Linked DNA regions of Homo sapiens: region 2 is linked to region 1. The links come from fine-mapping of genetic effects on gene expression. A gene starts in region 1. The other region holds a variant in brackets. All regions are shown on one strand. Distances are between the middles of the regions.

Region 1 (8,320 bases):
ACTATTAAATAATGATTTGTTGACTGGGCCCAGTGGCTCACACCTGTAATCCCAGCACTTTGGGAGGCCAAGGCGGGCGGATCACGAGGTCAGGAGTTCAAGATCATCCTGGCCAACATGGTGAAACCCCGTCTCTACTAAAAATACAAAAATTAGCTGGGTATGGTGGCGCGTGCCTGTAATCCCAGCTACTCGGGAGGCTGAGGCAGGAGAATCGCTTGAACCCGGGAGGCGGAGGTTGCAGTGAGCCGAGATCATGCCACCACACTTGAGCCTGGGCTACAGAGCAAGACTCCATCTCAAAAAAAAAAAAAATGATTTGTTATTGAACTGGTCACTTAACTCCACGTCCCCTCCCAGCCACTCTTTGACTGTCCCAGTGGCCTAGGACAGATAACCTAACTATGGGACAGGCTCTTCCCCTCTGTACTACGGCCCAAGGATGAGAAAAAGAGACATTCCACAGGAAGACCATGTGGAACACAATCCATGCATTGCCCCCCACCATCTTTCACATCTGGGGTCATCTGCCTCCAGGTGGGACTGTCCTCCTCAGATCCCTGGTTGGAATGCACATACAGTCTGGGGGCCTGGCCAGGGGTAGGGGAAGGTGGAAAAAATGTTATCTCTGATCAGAGCTGGGGACACTGGGGTTGATTCAGCGGCAGCCTCTGAGTTTTGTGGGGCATGCACATTGGATGGGGATGTCTCCCCACCCACCAAATCCTCATGCTGTTCAGAACCCTGGAGTGGCCACCCTTAGCACAGAACTCCTTTCTAAAACATAACACCTCTCTGCACAGGGCTGTGGAGGGTGCTGACTCTAACCTGCCCAAGACCAGAGAAAGAAATGAGAAGAGCTGCCCGAGGGACTGGACTCTGCTCCAGAGCGGGGACTGGGTCAGCTTAGCTGGGGTCACACACTGTTCAAGGCTGCCTCGGTCACCACCCGGGGAAAGCACCTCACTCAGCCCTGGGAGGTGCTCAAAGAGTAAGATCAAAGTGAAGTCAGACAAAGGAGGCAATGAACACCTGGGTCCTGACCCTGTCTCTCTACCACCCTCCCAATGTATTCTTACACAAGTTACTTAGCCTCTCTGTGCCTCAGTTTCCTTATCTGTAGAATGTCACCTAATTTCTTGGGTTATTGGCAGGGTGGAATTGGTTAATATGGATAAAACTTTACAACAGTGCTATAGGCATGTTTGCTGACCTCATTCTCACTGATGTTATTACTCAGCTTTCTCTAAGGCTGTTACTTCCACTATGATATTGGAGGGTGATGGTCGTCTTATGCTCTTATGCAATTATGTAAATCATTAGATGACAAATGTGCAGTGTCCAGCACACAGCAGGTACTCAACAAAGAATGTTCCCTCTCCCAGCCGGGAGTGGTGGCTCACACCTGTAACCCCAGCAGTTTGGGAGGCTGAGGCGGGCAGATCACGAGGTCAGGAGATTGAGACCATCCTGGCTAACAAGGTGAAACCCCGTCTCTACTAAAAATACAAAAATTAGCCAGGTGTGGTGGCGGGCGCCTGTAGTCCCAGCTACTCAGGAGGCTGAGGCAGGAGAATGGCATGAACCCAGAAGGTGGAGCCAAGATTGTGCCACTGCACTCCAGCCTGGGCAACAGAGCAAGACTCCGTCTCAAAAAAAAAAAAAAAGTTCCCTCTCCCTCTCTCCCCTTTCCCCCAGAGAGGCCAGACTAGGAGACAGAACCTGTCCTGACCCCCACCAGGGGTCTCTGTGTGATCCTACCCTCATCTCTAGCTCTTGGCCTCAGTTTCCCCATCTGTGAAAGAAGCTTTTAGGCCAAATGGTCTCTAAGTGTCCATGGCCATATCTGCTCCAGCCTGTCCCCCACCCTTGTTCCCTCCTTCCTTCCCCATTTCCTACTGCATCCCCTCCTGATGTGACAGAACCCTTGGGAGCCTGAAGCGGGGTAGAGGGGACAGCTGGTGAACAAGAATCACCAGCCCTCAAGGAGCCCAGGGCCCGGTCCAGGCCCCCAAGGGTTAAGACCTAGAGTGAGGGGCGGGGGGCCAGGGTCAGCGCTGGACAGGCGGGCCTGGAGCCCAGGGCCTGCCTCCCCTCCCCCTACCCTGGGAACAGAGGCCACTTGTTTGGGCAGTGGCGGGTGGCTTTGAGCTCAGCCAAGGGAGAGTTGGGTGGGAAGGAGAGAGGGCTCCGGAAAATGGAAGGGACTCCCCACCTCCAGCCGATGCCCTAGGCCTGGTCCACCACTAGCCCCCGATACTCTCAGACACCCCCCCAACCCCTCTAAACTGACCCCTTCCCCTGGGTTCTCTCTTTCTTTCATTCAAACTCTCAATGCTGGAGACAGGACTTAGCAGATAGGCCTATTGCCCCAGCATCTTAGCAGATAGGCCTGACTATTGCCCCAGCACCGTCTCTCTTTGGGGCATGAGGCCAGGGCTGATCACTCCATCCTGCAGATGGGGAAATGGAGGCTCTGAGGAATTTGGGGACTTGTAGAGTCACATAGTGATTGGTGGCTGCACAAGGACTCGGGGCCCCAGGTCCCATGATCCCCATGGCTCTGCAGGCCCCATCCCCACAGAGCTCCAAGGAGACCCTTCCTAAGCTGTGCCATTACACAAGACTGAAGGCTGGGCAGGAAGGAGGGGCAACAGCAGCCCATCTCTGAAACCTGAAGTCCCAAAGGACCTGGGGATTTGAATGGGGAGGAAGCTTCTAGAGGGTTGGGAGGAGGATTAACAATCTGTACAAAAAGCTGAGGCTGGATGTGTGAAGCATGGCTGGAGCCCAGGTGGTGGGGGTATAAAGCTGGGGTTGAGTAGGAGGCTTGAATGCAAAACAAAACCTGGGGGCCATCAGGGCTCTGGTGGCCTCTGCCCCCTCCACCTCATCAGTCACCGGTACTCTGCCTGGGACACCCCCTTCCTAAACTACTCCAATATGCAAGTAGCCAATGGGGAGGCAAGGTCCCCAGGCCCAGTCCTGACAATCCCCAGCCAGGAATGGGACACAGGATGAGTTCTCTCTACACCTCTGCCAGCCACACCCACCTTTCTGCCATTCCTCAGACACACCATCCAAATTCCTGACTTTGCACAAGCTACGCCCTCGCCTTTGGAGGGTCCTTATCCTTGTAAATTGCCACTTAACTGCCAAGCCCATTCCAGTCATCCCCTCCCCTGGGGCCTGCACCTGTCCACACCTGTCTTCAAGGCTCTGCTGGGCTCCTTCTACCCTGTGATGATCTTGCTGGGCAGTCTCTCCCAGCCTGGCCTCTGGGGACTCTCCGCGAACAGGTATCATGAGTGCCTCAGTCTGGGACCCTGGGACCCACCAAAGAGTCAAATCCTTCCGAGTACCCCCAGGTATCTGGCCCTGAAGCACCCCCCTCCCACCTATCTGGGATCAGGGAAGGCTCCCCAGGATATGGGATGTGGGGGAAGGGACGGTATATAGCAGAAACCACAGCGTGATGGCTTCTGGCCAGATTCCCCCCCTCCCCGCCGGCCCTGCACCAAACACCCATCCCCTGCCCCCAGGCTGCACCCTAAGCCTGCTCTCTCCAGGCCCAACCACCCCACTCCCAGCGTGACCCCATTCCCTGAGCACATACTTTCTTTCACCAGCAACTGGGCCAGGTAGGGGCTCTGGGGAAGCCATGCCCCATTTACTGGTGGGGAATTGAGATGCAGAGACCGGAAGTAGCCTGCCCAAGGTCACTGGAGCCCCAGGCCCAGGGCATAGGGTCGTACAGATCTCCAGAAATGTAAAGGTCTCAGCGGCCAACGAGGTGGGAGCCTTCACTTCACAGATGGGAACCCCAAGGCGCCCGAGGGCGGCTGACTCCAGAGACCCTTCACGCCAAAGGGCTACGGGCTGGAAGCCCCGGGTCCCGCTGGTTCACCCCCCTTCCCTACCGTCTCTGGCCCGCTGGCTTATCCTCAAGAGGCGACCCCCCCATCACGCCCAAAAAGGTAAACAGACAAGATGACCCGGGGAAGCAGAAGCAGCGCGCGGCCTCGGCGTTCCTTTCTGCAGAATGGGGAAACTGCAGGCCAATGTGGCGAGGGGCCTGCAGACGGGGAGGCTCCGGCAGCCGCACTGACCTGTTTTGAGTAAAGACTCCACGCGGGGACCAGGCGTACCGGCGCCGCCACCGACTTACACCGCCACCGCCAAATTGCAGCAAGGGGCCGGGCGCGCCCACCCCCCCGGGCGCTTCCGCCCGCCCCACGTGACTCCCGGGGAGGGGAAGGTGGGGCTGGGGCAGGGCAGGGCAGGGCCCCGCCCCCTCATCGGCCCCTCCCCCCGCCTAGTCACGGTCCTGGAGTTGGTTGGCCTGGCCCGCCCGCCGGACCCGTCGGTCTGTGTCTCTCTCCTGCCCCTCTAGCTGCTTGCGGGTCTTCCGACTGTCTCCTGAGGCTCAGGTCTAACCCCCGCCACCTCGCCCGCTGAGTCCACCTCTCCCTGAGTCTCCCTGCTCTCGCCACCCCTCTTCTGGTGAGTCTGCCCTGACATACACCCCACCCACAAGAGGGCCACACCCCCAGGGGGATAGGAGGCAGTTGAAGGCCGTCAGTGGTGCCTGACCACCTCCTCTAGGAAATCCTTCCTCCACCACATTCTTCAAGGGTATCTCACTTCCCTCCCTGGGTGCCCACAGGCAGGGTTGTGGGGAAGCTACCCACCCAGCCACACCTCCCAAGGATCCCTCAGCGGAAGGCTGCAGCCTGAGGTTCCAGCACCCACACCTAGAGAACAGGAGATTCCCACCCATCCTCCCAGCACATACACAGATGAGGGTACCAAGCTTGGCAGACATTTCTGGGTCCTGTGTCCAGAACACCTCCGGGGCCAGCCACGCCAGAGACCTTCCCTGGGCTTCAATTTCTTTATATGCACAAAGGGTATATTTGGAAGAACAGATCTCACATTGCGGGGGATGAGGGTTTACCCCCTGAGAAGAGGAAAGTGTCATTAATTGGAGCACCTACTGCATGCTAGTCCCAGTGCTGGGCAATTTATTCCTTTTATCTCAATCCTTACATTCTGCTTGATGGCAAAAATTATCATCCCAGGTTATGGGTTAGGAAATAAGGCTCCAAGAAGTCTGAGGGCTTGCCCAAAGTTACAAAGCCAGTGTTGGGCAAAGCTGGGAAGCAACCCATTTTTATGAGTTCTAGAATCTCCTGCCTGCCCCCCACTGGCCATTCACCCTGTCCCTCTGGGAAAGAGTTGACTGAGTAGACCGTGTCTTCTGGTGGTAGGGCTAAGGCAAAGGAGCTTTCCGGGAGGGGAGAACAGGGCCAGACCTTGCGGAGAACTTCCGGGCCCCAAGTTCATATGGGGTCAAAAACACTGCAGAGGAGCAGAGCATAGGCCCCTCCTCTGGTCCTGGCAGCAGGGGTGTCCCTTGGGCAGCAGAGGGCACCTGGGGGCCACAGATCACAGGGGAGGCCCAGGCGTCCCTCTAGACTTCAGACCAGCGAGGTGCAGCACAGGGTGAGAAGGCTGGCATCTGACCACTGGCAAGGGGATAGGGGGTCTGGGGACCCTACCATTTCTGTTAACACAGTCCTGAGGTCTTCAAAATGACCTAGGGAGGGCGTGAATCACCAAGCCTGGTCCCCACCAACTGCACTGGAATCTGAGGCCCCTCACCTGCACCCTTGACCTCCCTCCAGGGTATGCTGCCCCAGCCTCAGCTCTGAGACCCACAGCCCTGTGGCTTGAGACCCACGGACCCCTCCACCTCCCTTCTGGGATGACAGGAGTGTCAGACCCCAGTCCATAGGTTGGACCCAAAGGGCCTTGGGCCGAAGGACACAGAGTAGAACCTCACCCTCTGACTCCTGACCCAGGGTCTCTGTCAAGGCCTGCTCCTTCCCTTAGAGCAGAGGTCCCCAACCCCTGGGCCACAGACTGGTACTGGTCCTGTCAGGAACCTGTTAGGAACCAGGCTGCACAGCAGGAAGTGAGCAGAGGCTGAGCTAGCATTACCGCCTCCTGTCAGATCTGCAGCAGCATTGGATTCTCATAGGAGGGAGAACCCTATTGTGAACTGCGCATGCGAGGGATCTAGGTTGTGCGCTCCTTATCAAAATCTAATGATAAATGTGATGCACTTGAATCATCCCAAAACCAATCCTTCCCCAATCCTGATCCATGGAAAATTTGTCTTGCACAAAACCAGTCCCTGGTGCCAAAAAGGTTGGGGACCGCTGCCTTAAAGCAGTGAAAAAGAAAGCAAATAGCCTGGCGTGAATGCCAAAATGACCGCTCAACAAGGACAGCTGGATAGATACGGGCAGAGAATGGAACAGAGTATGGACAGAAGGGGGGCAGTGATAAACCCCGTCTCCTCCCCGCTACACAATGGGAAATGAGGAGATGCTGGAAGGATCAACGGCCGGATGATCAACAACCTTAACAAAATTAAGGGCAGACGCAGGGGACCGCGGCAGCGGCCATGAGGCAGGTGGGAAGCAGGCACAGTGATGAGCCGGCTGAGGCTGTGGGATCGTTTATTGGGGCTCTGTCCAGCCAGGCTGCAGCACCCGCCTGGGCCTGGCCCGGTGCCACCAGGTGCCGGGTGGGGGAGGGGAGAAAGTGCAGGAGCGGCCGCCGCCCCAGGGCTCGCCCGGTCCTGTCTCCGTCCCTGAAGCGGTGCGGCGCTCAGGTGAGCGAGGTGTCGTCGTCGCTGCCCTCGCCGCCCGCGCCGCCCATCCGCTCCTCTCTGCTCTCGGCCACCGCGCTCTCGTCGATGTTCTCCAGTGAGTCCGCATGCTGCACCGACAGCTCCGACAGCGCCAGGCTCGGCAACGGGCTCTGCTCCGGGTGCAGCCACGGCTTGAAGTGAGGCAGGTGCTTCTGTTTCCACTCGGGGTACTTGAGGCACGCCTTGTACATCTTCTTCATGGCCTGTGGGCCCGCCGCCCCGCCGGGTCAGGGGGTGGCTAGGGGGCAGGTCTTCTCCACACCCCCCTCCAGCGGCTCAGCCCCCAGCATCCTGACTGGCTCCCTTTCAAAACTTCACTCCTCAGCCCTACTTGCCCTCCCTGGGCCCTAGGCTCCATTCTCCATTCTTTTTTTTTTTTTTTTTTTTTTGAGACGGAATCTCACTGTGTGGCCCAGGCTGGAGTGCAGTGGCATGATATCGGCTCACTGCAACCTCTGCCTTCCAGGTTCAAGTGATTCTCCTGCCTTAGCCTCCCGAGTAGCTGGGATTACAGGCACCCACCATCACACTCAGCTAATTTTTGTATTTTTAGTAGAGACAGGGTTTCACCATGTTGGCCAGGCTGGTCTTGAACTCCCGACCTCAGGTAATCCACCTGCCAAGGCCTCCCAAAGTGCTGGGATTACAGGCATGAGCCACCACGCCTGGCCCTCAGGCTCCAGGCTTGACTCCACCCACCTCATTCCATAGTCCTCTTTCCAGTCTTCAACACCCCTCCCCAAAATCCCAAGGCCACTCACCTTGGGAGCCAGGAACTGAGAAGATTTATTCACCACCCACTTGGGTAAGGAGCCTGTGAGGGCAGGGAAGGGAGGAAGCAGCCTCAGGGACCCAGCCCCTCCGCCCCTGACAAAAGCCCCACCCTCTGCCCAGAGCTTCCAGGGAGGCCACTGTCTTCCCCATGAGGAGGAGGTGTGTGAGGCAAGTCCTACAAGCCTTTACCCTCACTCCCTTCCACCTCAGACCGAAGTCCTCAGGCTTAGCTCTGTCCCCCACTTTCCCTCTGCCCAGCCTCAAAGATTACGTGGAAGAAAACCACAGGGTCCTAGGTAAGCACAGGCTATACATGGGTGGAAACTCTGACCCACCCTGCTGCACCTGCTGCCTCACTCAATCACACTGACATCCCTTCTCAACCTAACCTCCCTCCCAGGAATGCCCCTGACGCTCAGCCCCTCCCCTGCCTGTCCTTCCAAGTCCTCCCCTGACCACACAGGCCTCTGGCTGAGCACCCCAGCCTGGCCTGACCTGGAATCCACTGCCCAGCTCTCCACCCTATCTCATTCCCAAGTGTCCACTCCACCTCTGACACCCAACACAATGAGGTGCCGGGGGAGTGCTAGGCCTGGACCACTGTGCGCTCTGGGGCTTGAAGCATTTCCAGGCAAGGATGCTCAAGGCTTCCCCATCCTCTAGTCATTCACTCACTCACTCACTCACTCACTCCATGTTCACTGTGACACCCACCCTGGGCCAGCCCTGGGGACCCAGAGAGGAACTCACTGGGGGCCCAACAGGAGCCGACTGTTCTACTAGAGGGGAATGGACTACAGAACAGGGAGCCAGTGACTCCCCTGA
Region 2 (8,320 bases), 70 kb before region 1:
GTTTCACCATATTGGCCAGGCTGGTCTTCAACTCCTGACCTCGTGATCTGCCTGCCTTGGCCTCCCAAAGGCATCAGCAAACTTCCAATCTCTGAGCTGGACACTTCAAAGTCGCCTTGCCCCATCCCTCTCCTACACTTCCTGTATCGTTTGTTCCAAAGGACAGTAGATTCTCTTAGATCCATCCACTCCCTCCATCCCCACCCCCTGCTTCCTTCCCCCTCCCCTGGTCATGCTCCAACCCTTACCCCAGGTCAACCTCTCTACTCCACCTCCTCCTTGCACCTAGAGGCGGCTTCCAAAGACATCTATCTGGTAATGGAATTCCCTCTCAAAACCTTTGCAGGGCTCCCCAGTGCCCTCAGGATAAAGGCCAAGCTCCTCAGCCTGGCATTTGAGGTCCCTTGTGATCCAGCCCTGACTGACCTCACCATCCTCTGCTCCAGGTGGGGCCAGGTCTGGTCCCTAAGCACACTCTGGTTCTCTCCTCCTCGACTTTGTACAGTGTTTCTCCTCCCAGGCCGACTTCCCCCTCCTCTTCCTTTTCTCTGCCTATCCCAAATCCTAGCCCACCATTGCTGGGCCAGTCAGCACACACCCTGCCTCCCACCCACAAGGACAGGTAGGCAGGAAGGGGCATTGGATTCTGGGCTAGAGACCCTTGGTGGCCTCTCCCTTCCCTAATGTCTCACCCCCCGACCCCCTCTCAGGCTCATCTCATTTCTTCTACAGGATCCTGTTAGCTCAAAAGACAAGCCAAAGTCCTATGTACCTCGGCCCCAGTCCACAGCCTTTGGGTAGCCCGCAACAGGCCCAAGCAGGAAATGTTGATGGAGAAAAGTCAGAAAGGAGGCCGACGGAAATCGGGTGGTGCACAACAGAGCTCAGCTCAGGGGCACACGTGTCTTGCAGACAAGATAATGCAGGTGTGTGGGGATGCAGGCAGTGACGCTTACTGCTCTGTGAGCACCCCCCCAACCCCAGGGCAGGCTGAGACTACCCAGTGTGAGACAGCCCTCAGCTCTCCGGAGAAAGGCTGGTAACTGGTGGAACATGGATTTCACAAAGGGTTGGCCTGAACACCCCTGGGTGACTCCCTCTGGCTGGGGGACAGGATAAGCCCACATCTGGGTCTTTGCAATGGGAGCCCAGGCATGGGGAAGGGGTGGAGTGGGGAGCTCAAGGAGCCATTCCACAGCTTCTCCCCACTCCTCCTCTGCCAGGAAGCTCCCCTCTGTGGCTCTGATGACAATGGCTGAAGGAGCACCATGTCCTTGGGTAGGGCCTGGCATGGGTCTCTGCATTCTCACACTAAGCATGTCCCCCACCACACAAGTGACAAAAGCTTTTGCTGATAAAGGAATGAAAGGCCACCACAGCCCCTATAGTAGTTCCAAGGTGGAGCAGCTTCTTCAACACCTCAGGAAGGTGGCTTTGGGATTCAGGATGGGGCATGAAGGATCCACTTCAGGTTCCAGGATATCTGTCAGAGCTCTCCGGGGAGGAAGGGGTGACCCCAGGTGAGGGCAGTGACCTACCCATGGCTGCTAGGCAGGGGGCTGGGGGGCTGGAACAGATGGCGAGTTCAGGGAAGGGAGAAGCCGCCCAGCCCCAGCTGAGTCCAGGGCCCTCTCCTGCCTCTTTTGTCTTGTGGGTGGGGGTGGCTGCATTGGTCTAGGAGGGATGGCAGAGAAAAGAGGGAGGGAAGTCAGCCTGGAACGCGGCTGGGCCAGACACTCGGAAGTGCCTTCAGCCTCAGGTTGAGATCATCTCCAGGGTTATAAATCAGAGAGAATGAGACGCTAGAGCCAGTTAATCTAATCCTTCACTGTGCAGATGGGAAAACTGAGGTCAGAGGGGTGCCCAGGTAACCCAGTGAGTGAAGGGCGAGGCTGAGCCTAGGACCAAAGACGGTGGCCATTGCCCCACCGGACTACTTCCCCCTCTTCATACTCTTCCACCTCTCCTTCCTCCTCCAACTGAGACAGCAGCCCACAAGAGAAGGCTGTACATATAGCTTGTGACTCTGGGGAGGGCCCCCAGGAATGTGGAATTCCAGCAGGGATGGGTCAGGGCAGAAGTGGCCCCTGTGGCTTCATATTCTGGCGAAGGCTCTGCTCTTCTTGGGGCCTCAGCACCAGCCCCCTCACCACCACCACCCTCCAATCCAGCACACTAGGGATCTTCCTTGCCAGGAGGCCCCGAACCTCCCACTCAGCCCTGAACCACCTCTTCCCCCATAACTCCCCGCACCTGAGGGGGGATGCAGGGGGTGTGACTCAGTGGGATAAAGGCAGCTGCTATATTTGAATTATTACATAAGCCAGGAGGGAGGCAGCTGCAACGTGACTCCATGAAGGTCAGGAGACAAGTTGAGGCTGGGCACAGGAGGCAGGGGTCTCCTCCCCTCTGTCCCTAGACTCCAGCTTGACCTAGGGATTGGAAGTCGGTCTGCATTGCTGCACTGCAAGAAAGGTCTTCCCTAGGTCTAACCACACTAGGAAAGCTCTATTCTCTATCTTCTTAGAAAAATATCCCCTGGTTTCTAGAAACCCTAAGGCCAGACCCAGGCTATGCCCCAGATCCTCCCCCTACACTCTTACCGGTAATAAAGATGGGATTAAAAGCTTTGCCATTCTTTTAAAAGAGCGCCTGATGGAGACAGCAATACACACGAGCCTTGACTCACCTGCCCCATCTGAGAGGGACCTGTGTTCCTGTCCCAGCTACTCCACTTACCAGTCATCTTCCTCCTGGGTCTTGGAATAAAATGGGATGACACATGCAAAGCCTTGGCACAGCAGGTGGTGGGCGCCCCATGATGGTTTCTCGGCACTATCACTTGCATCTTCACTCCCACTGCCAACTCTAAGGGCTGGCTGAAGATCGTGGTGGGAACTGAGGTTGGACTGACCCCTCTGCCCCCAGTCCCCTTTCTGGGTGGAAGGTGGGAGACCGGAGGAGAAAACAGGTCTGAGAGTCAGGAGCTTGGCCAGACTTGCTGTGTGACCCTGGGCAAGCCCCTGCCCTCTCTGGCGCCCAGCTCTGGAGCTGGTGTTTGAGAGAGGATTTCCCAAATGGGATCAGTGACTTGTGGCACTGGAAGCTGCAGTGGCAAGCAAAGTTGGCTGGGGGGATGGGGGTGGGCTGTCCTGGGAATGGTGAGCTGGAGGCAGCCATGGTGGGCACCAGCACAAGGCCCACCTCCTCGGCACCTCCTCTTATGGACCCCACACCCCAGGAGGAGGAAGCTGTGCCCACCCGAACTGTGTTGCCATGACACTGGTCTCCATGGTGCCAGGCACACAGCCCTCCCCTAACCCAATAGGAGGGACTGAAGGTGACAGGAGCTGAGGAGATTCGGGACCTGGGGTCCCTTTCACTTGTCCCTATGCCTCCATCAGCCCTATGAGGTCAGGTCCCCATCCTGAGCCTCTCAGGAGAGCTGGGAGGAGCAGTTTCCACTTCAGAGTCAAGAGTAACAAAGAGAGGCCTCAGAGTGACTTGTGTGGAGGGCAGATACACAGGAACGCAGGGAGGTGGCAGGGCGACAGGGAGGCAGAGAGAGCTGGGGAGGCAGACGGGCAGGGGGAGGAGGGCATGCTAGTCACAAAGGGAGGAGGGCGTCCCAGGCTGACAAGTGGTGAGAGGCACCGTCCAGCCCATCTCTTTGGTCTCAGCATTTGGAAGTGGGTGGTGGTGGGAGGACAGGGTGGAGGAGGAGCAGGAGGGAAGGGGAGCAATTTTCCTAGAGAGCTGTGTGTGGGTGGGTGTTCATCCACGTGCCGTGTGTGTGTGCTCATCCACGTGCCGAGTGTGTGTGTGTGCGCGCAGCATGCACTCGCAGATCTGGAGAAGCAGGCTGAGGTGTGCAGGCACGTGTGTGCAGGCCTGAGTGTGTGTGGCATGTGTGCGCCTGTGCCACTGTGTCTCCAGGGTGATAAATACAGCAGTAGGAGCTGTAACCAGGGCAGAGAAAGTATGGAAATTTCCACAGGCTGGAAGTGGTGTAGGAGAAGGGACATGCTAGGGCTGGGCCAACCCTGGCTGACCAGGGAAACTGTCCCCGACTGCTCTTCCCTAGGTGAGTCCCTGACTAGGTGTGGTGACCTGGGCACATACGCATACCCTAAGTAGGCACAGTGGGATGGGAGAGCAACCCAGAAGAGCTTCCTGAAGGAGGTGTCGTAGTGGAGGAAGGGCTGGGAGGTTCAGGCCACTGCACTTATGTGAGAGACAGTCCCCAGAGCAGGGTCAGGGTCACTTAGGTCACAGAGCTGGCTAAGAGAATAGGAACTGTTCCTTATTCTGATGGGGGATGATCCCAAGGAGCCCACTGGACTGGGATGTGGTCATATCTCAGAGGCAGGCGCAAGGGGGATAGGCCCTAGGGTGCTGTAGGGCACTGTGTCCCAGCCACAGCAGGTAGTGACCACAGCAGGGTCACATCCCCTTGTCTTGTGCTCAGACCACTTCCTCTCCTCCACCTGTGGAGAACTGCCTCTCCTTTCAGACTCACCTCCTCCAGTCTTTCCTGATAATATCCCCTACCAGGAGGTCTCTACCTTCCTCCACACCACTCACTCATCTGCTCCCCCTCAGTGTTCAGTAACGCTCTGCATACAGTTGGTGTTCAATAAGTGCTTGTTGAGTGCAAATATATTGGGACTAGAATATGCCATGATACCTTCTCAGAAACTGCAGACAGTGCAGTGGGAAGGGGATTAGCAAGGGGCAATGCTAGGCACTTCACACTTACTAGCTCATTTAATTGCCCAAACCACTAGGAGGTAGCTACTATTAATACCCGCAAAGTACAGATGACAACATTGAGGATCAGAGACCTAAGTAACTCAGGCAAAGTCACACAGCTTGTAAACAGGAGCACTGGCACCCACACGCGTGCTTTCCAAGACAGCGGGCTGTGGGCAGGTGGCTTGGAGGCCACCAGAGCATGAGGCCAGGAAAGAAGCCCCAGCTCTTGCCCTTCCCTGTCCCACTGATTTCCTTCTCCAGAAGCCCCAGGACTCCTCAGAACTCTGCAGGGTAGGAAGGTTGTGCTGGAAGGAGGCAGGAGAGAGGCAGACATCC[T/C]ACCCCACCTCCCTGCCCCTCTCCCCTCTGCCCCCCAGCCTCCCCTTCACCTGCAGTGCCCTCACCATCCAGGCTCTGACGTGCCTCGGCCTTCTTTCCCAGGGCTCCCCGTATTCCCCAGGGGCTAGGCCTGGATTTGGGTTGGTCCTTGAAGCCCTGTCCTCCTCCCCCAATATTTCAGTATTTCAACCTCTACCCCAACCACACCTGGCAAGGCCTCCGGTCTTCAAAGCTGGCTCAGGAGCACTTCCTTGTCCAGGAAGCCCCTCCCTTTCCAAGAGCTGCTCCTGGCCCCTCTGCAGGTCCAGGTCTGGGGTCTTCAACTCATCCATGGCAACCCAACTTCAAATAATATGTGAATGAGCAAACCATCCAGGGTCCCAACAGGCCCCATTTTTAGGAATCCTTGCGACAAGGACCAGCAGAGCCTCCTGCCCCTAACCCATCCAACACTGTTGTCACAGGCATATTTCATTCCGGCTGAGGCCCTGAGGCTCCTGTTTGGATGTCACCCCTACCCCTTACCAGAGGGAAATCACTTTAAGCCATCACTAACTCCTGACAGTTCAGACCCCCTGCCTCAGGCCATTTCTAAGAGGAGAAAAGGGTTGGAATCAGGAGGGGAGTCAAAGAGGGAGACCCCACCAAAGTAGGGCAGGGGAAATGGACCTCAGGCCTGCTTCACGAGCATGGTGTGACCTTGGGAAAGTTGCCTCCCTTCTCTGGGCCTAGCTCCCCCTTGCCAAGAGCAGACAGTGCAGGGGGCACAGGGGCCGATTCACAGCAGGTACTTGGTAGAAGGCTGTTCCCTCCTCTTCCTGGTTCCCAGAGCCCAGGACTCCAATGCACATTCCTGTATGGTGCTGCCTTCCAGAATGTCACCAGCCTGCAGGCCAAAGGCAGAACTGGGTCCCGCTTCACACCCCAGCAGAGAAAGGTCTGGGCCAGGACCACCACTCAGGCATCCTCCAGACCCTGCTTTGATTCCAGCAATGATGAGTGGTCCATGGCTGCCGCCTTGTGGCCTAGTGCAGGACTGCAGCCAGCACGCTGAGCTGGGGCAGTGGCCTTAGCAGAGCAGGGGGCGCCTCCAGTCTCACCCACTCAGGTGGGCCTCAGGGCTGGCTGGGCAGTGCAAGGTCAGATCCAGGAGCGGATTCCAGCCCCTCAGCACTTGGATAAGGGGGTCCAACCTGTCCTGGCTGGAGGCAGAAGGGTCAGACATTCGACCTGTGGATCTGGCCAGAGCGACCCACAGGAGGTGGGAGACTCAAGGGGCTTAGCCCCAGCCTGTGAAATAGGTCAGTAGGACTCAGGGAACCGGTTCCAGTCTCCTGCCATATACCTCCCCTTCCTGAGACAGCGAGAGGGAACCTGGAGTCCAGCTCCCCAAGTCTTCCGCTGGACCCAGGCTCCCCACTGAGCTGGATGCCTGAGTCGGAGGTCACATGGCCCATCCCCACCCACTCTGCCCAGCCCCACTGGCTGAGGCTAAGGATGGAGGTCAGCCTGTCCGCCCACTGAGCCCCCGAAGAGCGGGTGGTAATGAGGCTCTAGGCAGAGGCGGGAATGTGGTGTCTGGCACCTCCCCAGGGAGTCCCAAACCCATCTCTGAGCAACTCATTATTTCCTCTGCAGGCCAGGGCCTCATCTTCTTAGTGGAGATGGCCAGGCAGTGCCCAGTGAGGGCAGCCCCCTGGTGCATGGCAGGCCCCACCTCTGGAGGGGTAGGCACTGGGGCCACAGGTGACCCAAAGGTGCTTCTTCTCAATTTCCTCAGGCTCCTGTGGCTCTGACCTTGTGTCTCCAGCAGGGGGCTGCTGCAGGGCTGCCAGGCCTGAGTCACTGACACACCACACCCAGGCCCCAGCTGGGACTCAGACTCGGACTGCAGCAGGACAGGGGCTTGTGTCCAGCCAGGGTCAGTGCTGGCCAGGAAAGGACCGGCATTCCCAGCCTGGCTGCAGGATAGTACAATGGGGAAGGCATGGAGTCAAGCCAGGGCTCTGCTTGGGGAAGGGGGTCGTCTGAATAGCTCAGGGCCTGGAGAAAGCAAGGCCTAGGTTCTCAGCTTCAGGCACTAGGCACTCACCCCTGGGCTTCCCGACCTCCTGTCCCCTCCTACCCCAGGACGCCCAATCCCCTTAGCCAATCACAGGCCTCAGCACCATAGGGTAAAATATACAGATATATTTATATTATCAAAAAGTCCCCAAATTGGGGAAGGGGCATCAGGTAGTCTGGACCCCCCACTCAGCCCAGACTGGAAGGAAGGCTGAAGTCCCCAAAGCGCAGCTCTCAGCCCTGTAGAAGCTCAGCCAAGAGCTCCCTCCCCGTGAGCTGAGTGCTCCTCTACAGCACCCGCTTTCTGCTGTTCTGGAGTTTGTTGGGAGGAGCAGGGGGCTCCCTTCCGGCAGGGCCCCAGGGCCTCACGCCTCTGAAAGGGTGGTGGTCCTCCCAAGTTCCTGACTTATGCCCATCTCTCCAGCCCCACAAGGACAGTGAACCCGGTGGGGTGAGCAGGTTGGGCCAAGAGGTCTGAACACCTGGACAGAGTTGGGAGAGGTTCCTGCCCAGGCTGACCCCTGCTGCCTCCCACCCCTGCCGGGGAACCCCATGCTGCAGTCAGGATGGAGGATGTGGGTTGTGGGGTGCAGTTTCCCATGCACCCCCCGCTGGCTCACATCAGGCCTTGGAGCATAAGGGGTGTCTGAACAGAAGGCTTCCAGCGGCGGAATCCTAGAGCCAAGGATGGGCTCCTGTGCTCAGACGTTGCGCAGAAGCTGCAGGAAGGCAAGAGACCCACAGGTATTTTGTGAAGGCCCAGAGGGGCTGGCGCCCCGCTGAAGCTGCTGCAGCTGCTGCAGCCACTCTCCACTGCCAGCCGGGGAGCACTCCAATCAGCCAGGCTCCCAGCTCCCAGGGCCAGGCAGAGGGGACTCCCAGCTTCCAGGGCCAGGCAGAAGGGGCTCCTTTGAATGGTGTGAACCAAAGAGGCCTATGAGGGCCCCCACCAAGGCTGGAGGGAGGGGGCCGGAGGGCAATCGGGGAGGGCAATCAGGGCAATCATCTACTGTGGAGTAGAAGGCAGGCACCCAGCCAGGCCCCCAGCCCCCTGCCCAAAGGCATGGAGAGCCACTCACAGACAGAGGGTCCGCGGTGAAGGCAGCCACACTCCGGCGCATTTCATTTTCACTACCTCGAAGGGGGATCAGTGACACACTACCCA

What was found. PIP is the estimated chance that this variant, and not a neighbour inherited with it, causes the effect.
Region 2: its variant is the best candidate, but not a certain one, in a credible set for the expression of ARAP1 in whole blood (INTERVAL, PIP 0.85).

Annotation. Positions count from the first base shown.
Region 1 is chr11:72,748,219-72,756,538 of GRCh38, forward strand. It overlaps ARAP1 (ArfGAP with RhoGAP domain, ankyrin repeat and PH domain 1), which reads right to left and starts at 4,190. Exons shown (of 35, transcript NM_001040118.3): 1 at 4,110-4,190. STARD10 (StAR related lipid transfer domain containing 10) reads right to left here. Exons shown (of 7, transcript NM_006645.3): 6 at 7,483-7,535; 7 at 6,511-6,924. The coding sequence ends at 6,679. RefSeq lists enhancers at 1,052-1,211, 3,871-3,990, 4,601-4,830 and a silencer at 4,041-4,330.
Region 2 is chr11:72,677,808-72,686,127 of GRCh38, forward strand. It overlaps ARAP1 (ArfGAP with RhoGAP domain, ankyrin repeat and PH domain 1), which reads right to left. Exons shown (of 35, transcript NM_001040118.3): 34 at 8,235-8,320; 35 at 7,262-7,874. The coding sequence ends at 7,857. Among named protein-coding and RNA genes, the nearest start is that of PDE2A, 7.5 kb to the left of the region's middle. RefSeq lists enhancers at 2,633-3,458, 6,927-7,486. The variant T/C (reference allele first, on the strand shown) is at 5,092.